Linked DNA regions of Homo sapiens: region 2 is linked to region 1. A link means that fine-mapping ties the variant in region 1 to the expression of a gene that starts in the linked region. Tissue or cell type: whole blood. Region 1 holds a variant in brackets; the other region holds the start of a gene. All regions are shown on one strand. Distances are between the middles of the regions.

What was found. PIP is the estimated chance that this variant, and not a neighbour inherited with it, causes the effect. A credible set is the group of variants that fine-mapping cannot tell apart.
Region 2: it holds the start of GGACT, and the variant in region 1 is the best candidate, but not a certain one, in a credible set for the expression of GGACT in whole blood (INTERVAL, PIP 0.74).

The regions. Positions count from the first base shown.
Region 1 is chr13:100,550,620-100,558,608 of GRCh38, reverse strand. All of the region lies in intron 2 of GGACT (gamma-glutamylamine cyclotransferase), which reads left to right. Among named protein-coding and RNA genes, the nearest start is that of GGACT, 34 kb to the left of the region's middle. The variant G/TG (reference allele first, on the strand shown) is at 4,766.
Region 2 is chr13:100,584,107-100,592,095 of GRCh38, reverse strand. It overlaps GGACT (gamma-glutamylamine cyclotransferase), which reads left to right and starts at 3,307. Exons shown (of 3, transcript NM_001195087.2): 1 at 3,307-3,355. RefSeq lists a silencer at 3,155-3,674.

The DNA.
Region 1 (7,989 bases):
TGTTTAACTTTAAAGACACTGTCAAACTGCTTTCCAGAGTTGCTGTACCATTTTGAATTCCCAGAAGCAATGTATGAGCATTTCAGTTACTCTACATCTTGCCAACACTTGGTATTAATAGTCTTCAATGTTAGCCACTCTAATGGTATCTCTTTGTGGTTTTTATTTGCATTTCCCTAATAACTAATGATAGTGAGCATCCATCTGTTCATGTGCTTACATGAGATTCATAGGTCTTTGGTAAAGTGTCAGTTTAAATCTTTTGCACATTTTGTTTGTTTGGTTTTGGTTTTTTTGGAGAGGTAGTCTTGCTGTGTTTCCCAGGCTGGTCTCTAACTCCTGGGCTCAAGCAGTCCTCCTGCCTCAGCCTCCCAAAGAGGACTGCAGCACCTGGCTGTTTTGCCCACTTTTTTTTTTTTTTTTTTTGAGATGGAGTTTTTCGTTCCTCTTGCCCAGGCTGGAGCGCAGTGGCACAATCTCAGCTCACTGCAACCTCCGCCTCCTGGGTTCAAGTGATTCTCCTGCCTCAGCCTCGAGAGTAGCTGGGATTACAGGCATGTGCCACCATATCCGGCTAATTTTGTATTTCTAGTAGAGACTGGGTTTCTCCATGTTGGTCAGGCTGGTCTCAAACTCCCGACAGGTGATCCGCCCGCCTCGGCCTCCCAAAGTGCTGGGATTACAGGTATGAGCCACCGTGCCCAGCCTTTGTTTTGCCTACTTTTAATTGGATTGTTTTTCTTCTTCTTGAGGTGTGAGAGTTCTTTGTATATTCTGGATAACAGTCCTTTATCAGATAGCTATTTTGTAGATATTTTCTCTGTCTACATTTGCCTTTTCATTTACTCACCCGAGTCTTTTGAGAGTAGGTGTTTTAAATTCTGAAGTCAAAACTTATTCATGTTTTCTTTTATTATTTGTGCTTTTTGTGTCCTATCAAAAGATTTCTAGAAAGTTTAACTCTTATATTTGGATACATTTTGAGTTAATTAGTGTATAGGGAGTGAGATAAGAGGTTTTTAAAAATCTATTTTTTTTGCATATGGATATGCAGTTGTTCCAGCACCATTGTTTAAAAGTCTATAGATTCCCCATTGAATTACTTTGGCATCTTTATTGAAAACAGTTGACCCTACAAGTAGGGGTCTACTTCTGGACTCTGTTCTGTACCATTGATTTTTTTAACTAGTTTTTGTTTTTTAATTGAAGTAATTCACACAACATAAAAGTCACCACTTTAAAGTATACAAGTAAGTGGGTCTTAGTATATTCACAAAGTTGTGCAGCCCGCACCACTAATTCCATATCACGTTATCTCAAAAAGAATGTTCCATCAACCTTAATGCATATCTTTTCTCTAATTCCACACTGTCTTGTTTATTGTAACTTTGTAGTTAAGTATTGAAATAGAAACTTCGGGCTGGGCATGGTGGCTAAAGCCTGTAATCCCAGCACTTTAGGAGGCCAAGTCTGGCAGATCACTTAAGGCTAGGAGTTTGAGACCAGTCTGGCCAACATGGCAAAACCCCATCTCTACTAAAAATAGAAAAACATTACCAGGCGTGGTGGTGTATGCTTGTAGTCCCAGCTGCTTGGGAGGCTGAGGCATGAGAATCGCTTGAACCTGGGAGGTGGAGGTTGCAGTGAGCCAAGATTGCAGTGAGCCAAGATTGCATCACTGCACTCCAGCCTGGGCAACAGAGCAAGACTCCACCTCAAAAAAAAGAGAAACTTTGTTCAGCTTTTTCAGTGTTGTTTTGGCTATTCTAGATCCTTCAAATGTTTATATAAGTTTTATTTTTTAATTTTTGTGGGTACATATTAGATGTGTATATTTATGGGTTACATGAGATGCTTTGATACAAGCATGCAATATGAAATACGCACATCATGGAGAATGGGTTATCCATGCCCTCAAGCATTTATCCTTTGAGTTATAAACAATCCAGTTACACTCTTTAAGTTACCTTTTATATAAATTTTAGAATTAGCTCATCAATTTCTACAAAAAAAAAACCCCTGGGATTTTCATTAAGATTGTGTTGAATGTCTACCTCAATTTGGGGAGAATTAACATTTTTACTGTGAAAATTATCCATCAAAACATGGTATATCTCTCCATTTATTTAGATACTAAAATTCTCTCATCAGTGTTTGGAATTTTCAGTGCACAGGTCTTGCACATATTTTGTTCAAACAATTGGACCCTAAGTATTTCAGATTTTTTGGTGATACTATAAATGATAATGGATTTTTAAATTTCAAGTTCCAGTTTTCCCCTGTTAGAATATACAAATACAATTGATTTTTGTATATTGGCCTTATATCCTAAAACCTTGCTAACCTCATTAGTTCTAGTAACCTTTTGGTAGATTTTCTTAGGATTTTCTGTACTGACAGTTATGTTAACTGCAAAAAAGATAGTTTTCTTTCTTTCTGAAGTGTATGCCTTTTATTTCTTTTTCTTCCTTTATTAGCCTGGCTAGAACCTCGAGGATTTAGAAGTAGGAAGAGTGGACGTCCTTGCCTTGCATCCAGTCTCAAGGGAAAGTACTTGATTATTCACTACAAAGAGAAGGATGTTAGCCATAGGTTTTTCAGAGACTTAACCTTTTTAGTAGATCGAGGATGTCCTCTTTGATTTCCAGTTTGCTAGGAATTTTTATCTCAAATTTGCTGAATTTTATCAAGTGCTTACCCTGTATTTATTGAGATCGTCATGTGGTTTTTCCATTTTAATCTGTTTCTATGGCATGGCAATTCATTGACTGATTTTTAAATATTAAACTACGTTGCATTCCTAGGATGAAACATTAGTAATGATGTATTATCCTTTTAACATATTGTTGAATTTTGTTAGTATTTGTTCAAGACTCTTACATTTATGTTTATGATGGACAGTGGCCTGTAATTTTTTCTTTTCTTTTTCTTTTTTTATTTTTTGAGACAGCGTCTCTCTCTCTTGCCCGGGCTGGTCTTTAACTGCTGGCAGATGATCCTCCTGCCTCTGTCTCCCAAAGTGCTAGGATTACAGGTGTGAGCCACCATACCCAGATTTTTTTCTTTTTAAAAAAAACCTGAGATGGGGTCTCACTCTGTCACGCAGGCTGGAGTACAATGGCACAATCACAGCTCACTGCAGCCTCGACCTCCTGGGCTCAGGTGATCCTACCACCTCAGCCTCCCAAGTAGCTGAGACTGACTACAGGCATGCACCACCATGCCCACCTAATTTTTTGTATTTTTTGTACAGACAGGGTTTTGCTGTGTTGCCCAGGCTGGTCTGAAACTCCTGGACTCCAGCAGTCCACCTGCTTTGGCCTCCCAAAGTGCTGGGATTACAGGCATGAGTTACCATGCCTGGCTGTAATTTTCTTTTCTACCAATGTCTTTGATTTGGTATCAGGTACTACTGGCTTCATAAAAGGAGTTGAGAAGTGCTCCTCCCTCTTTGATTTTCTGGAAAATTGTTTGGTATTTATTGGAAAACATTGGTATTATTTCTTCCTTAAGTGTTCAATAGATTTCACCAATGAAGCCATCTGCCTCTGGGCAAGGGTTTTTAACTGTGAGTAGATACAGGGCTTTGCAGGTTATCTACTTCTTCTTGAGTGAGCTTTGATACTTGAGACCTTTTGAGGAATTTTTCCATTTCAGTTAAGTTGTAGAATTTATTGGTATAATGTTGTTCATTATGTTCCCTTATTATCCTTTTAACGTTTGTTTTATAGTGATGTTCCCTCCTTGATTTCTTATACTGATGATTTCTTTTCTCTCTCTCTCGTTTACCTATAAAAGTAATAGAGCAGTACAATGATTCTCATATATCCATCACCCAGTTTCAATAACTATCGAGCCTTTGCACACATGCCTTATCAATTCCCTCTTTTCTTTGATATGCTGACATATTTTAAAGTATGTTCCAGACGTGATATTTTCAAATGCTAGATACTTCCATATGCGTCTCTGAAAAAATAAGGATATTTTCTTACAGGACCACAATGCCATTACCATACCTTAAAATATTAATCGTGATTCCTTGGTAGACTCTTATTACCTAGATTTACCTGTAAGATTTTCCTAAGTGTCTCAAAAATGTCATTGTGTATAGGTCATATCTTCAAATCAGAATCCAAACAAGGTCTGTACATTTACCCATGGCTGTACCTGAAATCGTTAATGTAAGGGAAATCACCCTCACTTTTTCTAATGCAATAAACTGTCTTATAATCATTTCTCCCCTAAAATGCCTCACATTCTGGATCTGTCTGCTTCTAGTTGGTATCATTTAACTTTTCTGCAATAGGAGTTTTTTCAATCTGAGAGGACTAAATGATGACTTGGAACTTTCTGAACCCCTGAGAAATGTACCTTGGCTTTCATCCCCTGGGGGAACATAAAGGAAGGGTGGGCAACTGTCCATCTCAAGACCTGGGAAATATCTGGTTTCTGTGTCCAGTTCAGGCCAGGCAATGTCCATGAAGCCTTTGATCTCCATCACCTCTGAATTCCACTTAATTATGTGTAGTACTAACTATATGTAGTAATTAATTATGTATCTTTGTTCATTGTGTTTCCTTTGTGTAGCTCTGGCCCTTGAAAAATCTGTCCTCTACTGTTAATCTTTGTTTTTAAGGCTTAGTGTACATTTTATGAAAGTATACCATACGTTAGAAGAGTGCAAGATTCCTGTGGACACACTGTGTACCTGGCCCCTGGCACAGAGGTTCATTTTGGCTGTTACTACCTTTTTTTTTTTTTTTTT[G/TG]AGATGGAGTCTCGCTTCGTCACCCCCGCTGGAGTGCAGTGGCGCGATCTTGGCTCACTGCAACCTCTGCTTCACTGGTGCAAGCGATTCTTCTGCCTCAACTTCCCAAGTAGCTGGGACTACAGGTGCACACCACCACGCCTAGCTAATTTTTGTATTTTTAGTAGAGATGAGCTTTCACATTATTGGCCAGGCTGGTCCCGAACTCCTGACCTCATGATCCAGCTGGCTAAGCCTCCCAAAGTGCCAGGATTACAGGCGTGAGCCACCATGCCCGGCCTGCTACTTCTTTACCTTCAGGTAAACTTGTCCTGCAGTGTGTGCCCTTGTCTGGCCGCTCTCAGGTGGTGCTGCTCATGGTGAATGCCATCGTGTTGCTGCCCCTATTCATTCTTGTTGCCATAGAGTATCCCAGGTATACCACAGTTGACTGGCCCATTTGACTGTTGGTGGACATTTCAGTTGTGTCTGCTTTGGGGATATGACACCTGGTGCTGACCAGCACATTCCCATTCTTGCCATTTTGGTGAACCTGCATTCACATTTTTGCCTGCATCTGCCTGGGAGTGGAATTGCCGGTCCTTGGGGACACACAGGCTCAGCTTTCCTAAAACTGCCACGCAGTCTTCCCTGGGGATTCACTGCACAATATTTTAAAACCCAGATCTTGCCATGCACCTCCCAGGCGTAGTGCCCTCGAACGGCTCTCATCACACAGAAGCCGAAATCTGACTCCATAAGATACCATGGAAGGCCCTTGGAGGCCCGGGCCCTGCCTCGCCCTGCCTGCTGGCATGCTTTCTGTTCCCCCAACAGCCCACCGTCCCCTCTGCTCAGGTCCCCCTCCCCTCCCCAGCCACCCGCCACCTGGCCTGCCTGCTCCTGGGTATCCCCAGAGGCTCTACTGCTTGCCTGGGTCGCCCTCTCCTGCAGGACACTTGACACCTGGTCCTGATGCGGGACTCATTGTCCCCACTCTAGAGTGTCCTCTCATCAGCAGCACTCAGCATCTCTGCCACCCCACCAGGCTGCAGCTTTTTACGAACAAGGACTGTTGCTTTTTCTGTCTTTGGATGCCTGGCCCGTCCTAGATGCTCAGTACCTCCTGAATGAGTGAATGAATGAATGGCCTGTCAGCCAGCCTGGACGTCCTGAGCACTGGGCAGATGATCTTAACAGAAACATTAAGTGGCTGGCAGGCACTCCTGGCCTTAGAAAACCTTTACATCTAGCTTTGGTTTTTAAAGTTGGAAAGAAAAGGACTCAAAGCACAGCCCCTTGCACAGGAACAATAGGTGGGGATTGATAACAAGGCTCACGACAGGTCACCGTCTTGACATCTCAGAATGGTTGTGTTTGCTGGGAGAACCAGCTAGAGCTTCAGTCTCTTCTTCAACAGAGAACTTCCCCGTCTGTTTCTCCTAGTTGACCACAGAGTATGTTGGGGGGTGGCGTGTAGATTTTGGATCAATCCCTGGCTTAAATCCAGCCCATAACAGCTTTGCTGTGTCAGTTAAATAACTCTTCTGAGCCTCAGTTTCCCATGTGTGGGATGGGACAGTAACACCTGCCTCGTCACGGGGCTGTTGGAGGCCCAGTTTGTGAATTCCTCATTTCCCCAGGAGAGAACAAAATCAGTTCCTGGAGAGCCCCTGACAGCCCCCATCCATTGAATTTTCTTCTTCTCTCCTGGGGAAATTAGAAATTCACAGGGCAAGTTTCCACCAGGCTTTGCCTTCCTGAGAGATCTGGCCTGGACCACACTCAAAGCTTGCCCTGCACATGGCTGGGAGAAGGGTCAAGGGCCCCTCAGGTGCGGGTGGCTGTAGAGCCAGCATGGTCTGGAGGGAGTGTGCCCACAGGGAGCTACCCCAGCCAGGCAGCACCTCCTTTCCTTCTGGGGTGCTAGGCCAGGGGAGGAGGTATAGCCTACCTCTTTGTACTGGTCTTGCCCCCTCTGAGAGACAGAGACCTGCTCCCTAGGGAATTGCCTTTAGATGGGGGCAAAGGGAAGGGAGAGAAATTCCTTAACCTGAAAATAAGTATAATCATTGTTATATTAAAACAACGCCAAATTTGCATGAATTTTAAAGAAAAACCCTGTACATCGAAGGGATGGGAGCACCTTCTTTGGGCAGCTGTGCCCCGTTCCTCAGCCCTTCTCTGCCTGGGCACAGGTGCCCCCTGGACAGCACAGCCTGGGGGTCCTGGATTTTAGGGGACCCACTCAAAGGGCCAATAAAGGGTTGAACACTTTTAAGGTGCTTCAACTAGGAGTTTAGCTACCCCTTAGCTATTTTGTGGTTACTGAAGCATGGCCCCCAGGAGAAATCCCTTTTTCCTTCTTTTCTGGGAAGTTCCTGGGAGCCGAGGGGAAGTCTGTTAATACCAGTTCTGGCAGGTGGGAAGAGGCTAGTGGCCTCCTCACCTTGCCACGGGCGCTGGTCCCTCCCTGGGGAAAAGGTTTTCTTGGCTTGGACAGCTTAGGGGCAGAGAGGAGAACATCCTTGGTTTTATCCTGTCTGTGTATATATACATTATGGGTTTTTGTTTTTTTTTTGAGACAGAGTCTCGCTCTGTCGCCCAGGCTGGAGTGCAGTGGCGTGATCTCGGCTCACTGCAAGCTCCACCTCCCGGATTCATGCCATTCTCCTGCCTCAGCCTCCCGAGTAGCTGGGACCACAGGCGCCCGCCACCACACCCGGCTAATTTTTTGTACTTTTAGTAGAGATGGGGTTTCACTATGTTAGCCAGGATGATCTCAATCTCCTGATCTCATGATCCACCCGCCTCGGCCTCCCAAAGTGCTGGAATTACAGGCATGAGCCACCGCGCCCGGCCTTGTTGTTTTTTAATTAAGAAAGTAGTTTTGGATGAGAGAAATGATAAAACTTTTATATACTCCTCCCAAAAAAGTTAAATGCCTCACATGTGTGAGCTGTTCAATTCAGAAAATGGCTGAGTAAACATGATTTTAACTTCATGACTGAAAGAACACTGTAAATTTGGGGAGAAAAAACAACAACTCCATAATGAAAAACAAAGCGGCTGTTCTGCTGTTTCTGAAGCGAGTGGATTGGAGAAAGCGCCTCAGTGGGAGGAGCCGCCTCTCTCCCTAATAACCACACAGCAACAGCTGGGGCTTTGCACGTTCTCTCGGGGCATTCCACTGTCTCGGGAGTGGCCTGTGCGTGGGCCTTTAAGTGCTTTTTCAAAAGCCAAGT
Region 2 (7,989 bases), 33 kb before region 1:
TCCCCTCTATTGGACGTTACTTGCAATGCTGGAGGCACGCAGGAGAGAAACACCCAGAGGAGGCTGGCCTCGTTTGCATAATATTAAGTAGTAATGTATTTAGTTAAATAGGAATATAAATTAGACATCTATTACACCCAGGTCTGGAAAACAGAGCTCAGCAATTACCTGCTCTGATTTAGGCAAATACAAATGCCAAACTGGTTAATTCTGGTTAAAGACAATTTGCTGGTTTAAATCCTTGTAGTTGATAAGGAAAATGTTTGCTGAGCTTTGAACAGGTGCTGATATGATTTGGGTCTGTGTCCCCACCTGAATCTCACGCTGAATTGTAATCCCGGGTGTCAGGGAAGGGCCTGGTGGGAAGTGATTGAATCATGGGGGCAGATTTCCCCCTGGCTGTTCTCGTGATAGTGAGTGAGATCTCACAAGATCTGGCTGTTTAAAACTCTGTGGCACCTCCTCCTTTGCTCTCTCTTTCTCCTTCTCTGGCTGTTTAAGAATTTAAGATGTGACTCTTTCCTCTTCACCTTCTGCCATAATCGTAAGTTTCCTGAGGCTTCCCCAGCCATGCTTCCTGTACAGCCTGTGGAACTGTGAGTCAAACCTCTTTTCTTTATAAATTACCAAGTCTCAGGTAGCTCTTTATAGCAATGCAAGAACAGACTAATACAGGTGCATAGTGATTTGCTGACTGCATGACCCTAAGCCTAGAGGATGTGAGAGTTTGTAAAAAGGCAGAGCAAAGGGGCCAGAATGAGCAGCTGAACCCTTTGCAGTGAATGACTCAATTGTACCATTTGGACACAACCAAACAGACTTGGTGAGTCGACCCAGTTCCTAAAAGCTACCAGAGCAGTTGGCTTGCCAAGGGATCCTGAATAACTGACCAACCCTAAACTGACAAGCCCGGGACCTGCTTAGATTGACCAGTCTATTTCCTTGAGGCACTTTGTGAGTTTTATCTCTATGAGACCCAAGCTTTGCTGTGGAGCTGTCTTCACAGTGACAGCACCCTGGAGTGTGTCTATACACAAGAAAATCTTCACTTAGCACCCTCTGTCCACCTGCAGAATCTTAGACCCTACTCCTGGCTAGCTGAACCAGAATCTACATTTTAAAACAAGACCCTGGGTTGACTGACGTGCACGTTAAAGTTTGAGAAGCACCGAGGTACATCCTCAAAAGGCGATGGTTTTCAAACTTGAACTGGCATCACTCATTAGAATGTCCATCTCTGGGCCCCACCCCCAGACTTGCTGACACTGAGTTGACCCCCAGAGTCAGGACACCTCCAGTGTGGCTGGAGATTGTGCATTTCTAAATACCCAGGTGCTGCCAGTGCTGCTGGACTGGGACCACATTTCAAAAACTGCTCTTCAAACTGTGAGTTGTTTTCCAAGAAGTTAAACTGAAGGCTTCATCCCACAGAGCCTATTCTATGTTAGATTGGGCTTCCCCAGCCTTATCTGGGATGCAACTTAACACTTGTCTTGGCTAGGCACTGTGGCTCATACCTGTAATCCCATCGCTTTGGGAGGCCAAGGCGGGTGGATCGCCTGAGCTCAGGAGTTCAAGACCACCCTGGGCAACATGGTGAAATCCTGTCTCTACCAAAAAATACAAGAAACTAGCCGGGCGTGATGGTGGGTGCCTGAGGTCCCAGCTACTCAGAAGGCTGAGGTGGGAGGATCACTCGAGCCTGGGAAACAGGGGTTGCAATGAGCCAATAACATGCTACTGTACTCCAACCTAGGTGACAGAGTGAGAACCCATCTCAAAACAAACAAAAAATTCGTCTAGTCTGCGTCATCTTTAATTTTCCTTTATCAGAAGAATTATTTATCTATTTGTCTCACTTTCCTTTGCTGACATGATTTTCCCCCCTCAAAAAAGAGATGAAAGTGGAATCATTCTTTCGCTTCAAAAAGTTAAGAATTACTGCTGTCTTTAAAAATATTAATATGAGGCCGGGCGCGGTGGCTCACGCCTGTAATCCCAGCACTTTGGGAGGCCGAGGCAGGCGGATCACGAGGTCAGGAGATCGAGACCATCCTGGCTAAAATGGTGAAACCCCGTCTCTACTAAACATACAAAAAATTAGCCGGGCGTAGTGGCGGGCGCCTGTAGTCCCAGCTACTTGGGAGGCTGAGGCAGGAGAATGGCGTGAACCCGGGAGGCGGAGCTTGCAGTGAACCAGATCCCGCCACTGCACTCCAGCCTAGGCGACAGAGCGAGACTCCGTCTCAAAAAAAAAAAAAAAAAAAAAAAAAATATTAATATGAGCTAGACAAGGTTTTTTAATACATTTCAATTTAATTATGAAGTGTCCAAGACAAGAAAAAACTGTGAAAACCAACGACTTATGTACCTGATGGTTTAGATTTCTTTTGGAATTGTACATCTGTTCAAAATACAATTACATCTGCATTGTTGGAAACGTTTGGATAAAAACCAGTTTATATAAAGGTTTCAATCAGTCCACATCCATGAGAAAGTAGAAAGGGCAGGAAATGATTAAGGGGGATTATTGCTAATCTGATAAACACAGATTTGTGTCTTTCGGAGAGACAGAAGTGTCACTCTCTCCATAGCTGTACCATTCCTACCACCTGGCCCCCAAGTGGCATTGCTTTAACCCATTGTCTCTAGGGAAAATGTTCTCTTTCGATTTTGGTTCTCAGTCCTATAATTTCTGGGGCTTAAATTAGTCCTGGAGCTAGGGAAGAGGTGATGTCATCCTTCCATTGTCTCCTTCGGCCACAGTTTCATTTTAAGAGTATTGGTAAGTAAGTGGGCAGTGTGACTAGATGGCGGTCTGGACTCGGTATCAGGGCTGTGTGCATGCCCAGCTGGGGGGCCTTGGTGGTGTGTGATGTGATAGATACACACATGGTTGGCATCCCCAAGTGTGTCTGCGCTTGGGTTCATTTGTGTGTGCATGTGTGTCCATTTGATGTGGCGTGTCCCCAAGCTTGTGGAGTCGTCTGTGAGTCTGTTTTGTGGGGTGTGGCCCAGGTGTGTCAGGGTCCACCATGCAGTCGGGGCTTGAGCCTGAGTGCCCAGGTGTGTTAGGGTGGATGTGACTTCTGTGGGGCGTCCCCAGGTGTGTGAAGCTGGTTGCGCTGTGTCTGCGGCGGGGCGTCTCCGGCGGGCATCGGCGTGGGTGGGTCTGGCTGTTAGGCGGCCAGTTGTGCGAGCGGCCACGTGTGTGCGAGGGCGCCGCAGGGGCTGGCGGGCCTCGCGTTCCGCCTGCAGGGGGCGCCGCCGGGGGCGGCCTGGGAGCAGAGGCGCGGGCCCGGCCCTGCATTTCCGCCCTGGCCCTGCCCTCCCCGACAGCCCCGGCTGCCGGCAGGTGAGGCGCTGAGCCCGGGCGGGGGTCGGGGCTGCGCCTGCTCCGCCCCCCAGGCGGGGTGTCCTGGCGCCCGCGGGAACCTGGGGCGTCGCTCCCTGCGCGGCGTCCGGGTCGAGGCCGCAGCACTCGGCGTCCCCGCGGGTGAGGGAGGAGGCCTGGGGCGCCGCCGGCCGGCGAGGCCAGCCGGAGGGAGGGGACGGTGGACCCCGAAACGCGTCCTCCATTGCCCCGCGCGGGGGCCACGGGCGCGATTGCCAGAACGGGCAGAGGGCGGTAAAAGCCAGGAACCGCCTCACGCACGGGCGCTGCTTCCCTGTAAAGGAAGCGTGACAGCCCACACGCTGGCTTTCAGAGGACCTCAGCTGAACCGGGCTAACACTTCTCAGAAATTGTTTTTCATTTTAAAGATTTCCTGTTTGTAAGGAGACTAGAAGCTGCAAAAGAAATCTAAAAACGTCTCCTGGCACTTGTGAATTTCTGATCTAAGGTTTCTTTGGAGCCATTAGTGAAACTTCTGAAATTTTGAAGAAATTTACTGCCTTGATTATTAATTATGGTTATCATTGCTGTTTTACTCTGTGGGCCAAGGACAACGCCACAAGCTCAAAAGCAGACTTAAGTGTTTTTTGAACACAGCTTCTTAACTCCACGCTTAGTTGATTTAATATTTAAGTGATAAGAAAATGCAGTCGATTTCTGGCCCTTTTTATTGTTTGGGATGAAGTCTTGCCCTGTTGCCCAGGCTGGAGTGCAGTGGCGCGATCTCGGCTCACTGCAACCTCTGCCTTCCGGGTTCAAGCGATTCTCCTGCCTCAGTCTCCCGGGTAGCTGGGATTACAGGCGCCTGCTATCACGCCCAGCTTATTTTTGTGTTTTTAGTAGAGACAGGGTTTCACCATGTTGGCCAGGCTGGTCTCGAACTCCTGACCCCGTGATCCGCCCGCCTTGGCCTCCCAAAATGTTGGGATTACAGGCATGAGCCACTGCACCCGGGATTTGTGGCCTTTTTTAAAAGCAAGTTATTCGTTTTGCTAAATGTCCCAGGAGAAATGATTAATGAAAAACTAAAGGTGACCTATTTAAAGTGTAGGTCTTACACACACGTAGGTGTCCTTATGTACATTTACCTGTAAGTGAAGACTTTTCCCTGGCCTCATTCAATTTATTGAAATGCTCAGATGAAGAGCACCTGCAGTTTGCCCGTATTTTCCCAAAATGCCTTGTTTTCCTGAAACTATTCCCAGAAGAAGCCAGACTTCCCTGAATAAGCAGACCACTGTGTTCTAGCAGAGATTCGTATTGTAAAAGCTGAGTTTGCAAAGTTAAATTAATTTCTAATTGGTGGATTTTTGTACGGAAATACTTTGGGCTAGTTGATTTTACTAACCAGGCCCTAACTACTACTAGTTAGGAGAGGGTGGTTGTTTGTGGTGATCTGGATAGTAGGTAGCAGTAAGCAGAATAGAAGAGGGATTTTAAAATGATCTGTTCATTTCTCTCTTTACTAGTAAGATTTCCAATCTGTGTCCATTCTTGAAGTGAAGTCATTGGGAGGCTTTGTATCCACCTCGAGCCAGGGCCCTTACCAGTGATTAGGACACCAGCAGGCTGGTGTGGAAGTGTAGTGCAGCCATGCTTGAAGAGGGGACAGGACCCAAGGAAAGGTGACAGTAAGAGGACAGAAACACGAAATATTCGCAGCCCTCTTTAGAACATCCTCCATCTAGGCAAACTCTATTAGGAATTTTAAGAGTTCTCAATTAAACATGACTGCCCAGTGTCCTGCTGAACAGGAATTCATTCTTCAGTTGAAGCTCTATTGTCAGTAAAACTACTCAGGATAAGGCAGCCGTGTTTAGGCCGTGAGGACCTGCCCCTGGACTGCGGAGCTTGCTCCGTAAAAGGCATCGTGATACCCCCTTAAATGGATTTACAGAAAAGACTTAGCTATTGGAAGTCTCTGGGATTGTATGGCATCATGAGGTAACAGACCTGGTAAATAGCTAGAACGTAGCGAAGAATGAAACCAGAGGCAGTGTGCTGTTGGAACTGAGAGGTGAGTGCTCACTGGAGGGCCAGGAGAAGGTCACAGTTGGGGAGACCTTAAGCAGAGAACAGATTTTTATAGGCACAGGAATGGAAAGGGTGGCCAACACCATGAGCAAAAATAAGAAGCTGAAAATGACAGTGTGTTCAGACAAAGGTGAACAACTGGCGTGCTGAGGCTGGACTCCGCGAGAGGAGGGGTGGGGTCGGGGGTGGGGGTGCCTGGAAAGCAAGGCTCTCCAGTGATAACCTCTACATTTTGATCAAGGTTCTGATTTTGTTTGTTTGTTTGTTTTGCTTATTGGGAAAATTTTAAGCAAACATAAAAGCCCAGCAAAGTAGAATGAATTTCCATATATCCATCAAATGGACTTCACAAGTCTTGTTTGGCCATATCCACTTCATCTTTTTTTTTCTTTTTTTGGTTGTGGCTGAAGCAGTTTAAAGCAGTTTATTCCAGACAACATAACACTTCACCCCTAAATTGTTCAGTATGTTTCTCCAGAGAAAGGGCATTTGCTTGTGTAACCATAATACAATTATCACCTCCTGATGAAATTGACAATAATTCCTTAACATTTTCTAAAACCTAGTCCATGATCAGATTTCCCTGATCACCTCAAAAATGAACTTATTTTTACTGTTGGTTTGTTTGAATCCACATCCAGACAAGAATTTGTTGACTGTTACCTTTTTATTTTATTTTATTTTTTGAGACAGGAACCAGCTCTGCTGAGATCATGGCTCACTGTAACCTCGAACTCCTGGATTCAAGCCATCCTCCCACCTCAGCCTCCTGAGTAGTTGGGATTACAGGCATGTGCCACAATGCCCAGCTATTTTTTTTTTTTTTTTTTTTTTTTTTTTTTTTTGGTGGAGACAGGTATTGCCCAGGCTGGTCTTTTTTTTTTTTTTCCTTCCTGAGACGGAGTCTCACTCACTCTTGTCACCCAGGCTGGAGTGCAGTGGCACAATCTTGGCTCACTGCAACCTCCGCCTCCTGGGTTCAAGTGATTCTCATGCCTCAGCCTCCCAAGTAGCTGGGACTACAGGCGCATGCCACCACACCCAACTAATTTTTGTATTTTTAGTAGAGACGGGGTTTCACCATGTTGGCCACACTGGTCTGGAGCTCCTGAACTCAAGTGATCCACCTGCCTCTGCCTCCCAAAGTGCTGCGATTACAGCCGTGAGCCACCGTGCTCAGCTGTTGCCCCTTTCAATCTAGGGCAGGGGTGGCAGATGTCTCTGTGAAGAGCCAGATACCAGCTCTTTCAGGCTTTGCAGGCCCTATGGTCTCTGCCACAACTGCTCAGCTCTGCCATCGTCATGCAGAAGTAGCCAGGGGTGATAGTAAATGGATAAGCATGGCTGTGTTCCAATAATACTTAATTTCCAAAGCTTTTGTGTTTTAAAATCCACCCACAGGCTGGACTTACCCGCAGGCTGTGGTTTGCCGACCCAAGTCTAGAGCAGCCTTGGCGGGTTTCCTCAATACCAATGACTGTCGATGTTACTTGGTTGATTGCCTGTAGGGTGCCTCACACTCTGGATCTGTTGGGCTGCTTTTCGTGGAGTGTGGTTTGGCTTGCTTCTCTATCCCCTATATTTCCTGTAAACTAGAAGTTAGATCTAGAGGCTTAATTAGGTTCATGCTTGCCATTTTTGGCAAGTCTACTTCAGAAGTGGTTTGACTTTTTTTAAATCTAAATTTATCTGACTTTAAAGACTTGGAAACCCTCATCAAAGAATCAAAGAAGCTCAACATTACCAAAATAGGAGCTCAGCATTACTAAAATTGGCTTTGCCTGATGGCTGAGAAGACATTTTTTCTTTTTCTTTTTACTTTTCTTATTTGTAGGAGAGTATATAGAGCTGTTATTTCTCAAATAGTTCTTTTTTGATAGTTAATTTTTGTGGGTACCTAGTAATAGGTGTATATGAGATACAATGTGTAATAATAAACCCTCATTACAAGGTATATGAGATACAATGTGTAATAATCACATCAGGGTAAATGGGGTATCCATCACCTCAAGCATTTATCTTTTGTGTTACAATCTAACGATACTCTTAGTTATTTTTAAATGTATAGTTACATTATTACTGACTATAGTCACCCTGTTGTGCTATCAAATACTAGATCTTATTCCTGCTTTCTGTGTTTTTGTACCCATTAACCATCTCTGCTTTCCCCCAACCCCCCTACTACCCTTCCTAGCCTCTGGTAACCATCATTCTGATCTCTATCTCAGTCAGTTCAATTGTTTTAATTTTTGGCTCCCACAAATGAGTAAGAACATGCAAAGTTTGTCTTTCTGTGTCTGGGTTATTTCACGTCACATAACGACCTCCGGCTGCACCATATTGTTGCAAATGACAGGATCTCCTTTTTAATGGCTGAATAGTACTTCATTGTGTATATGTACCACATTTTGTCAAGGAGGTCTTGAGAACTTTGAACCCTTTCTCTAGGTCACTGGGAAGGTTCCTCTATTCAAGGCATTCTTTGGCCCCTCAAGCATGTGGACTGCATTTTTGCACTGAATATAAGTATATTCCTTCCCTGGGTATGTGCCCAGGGTCTG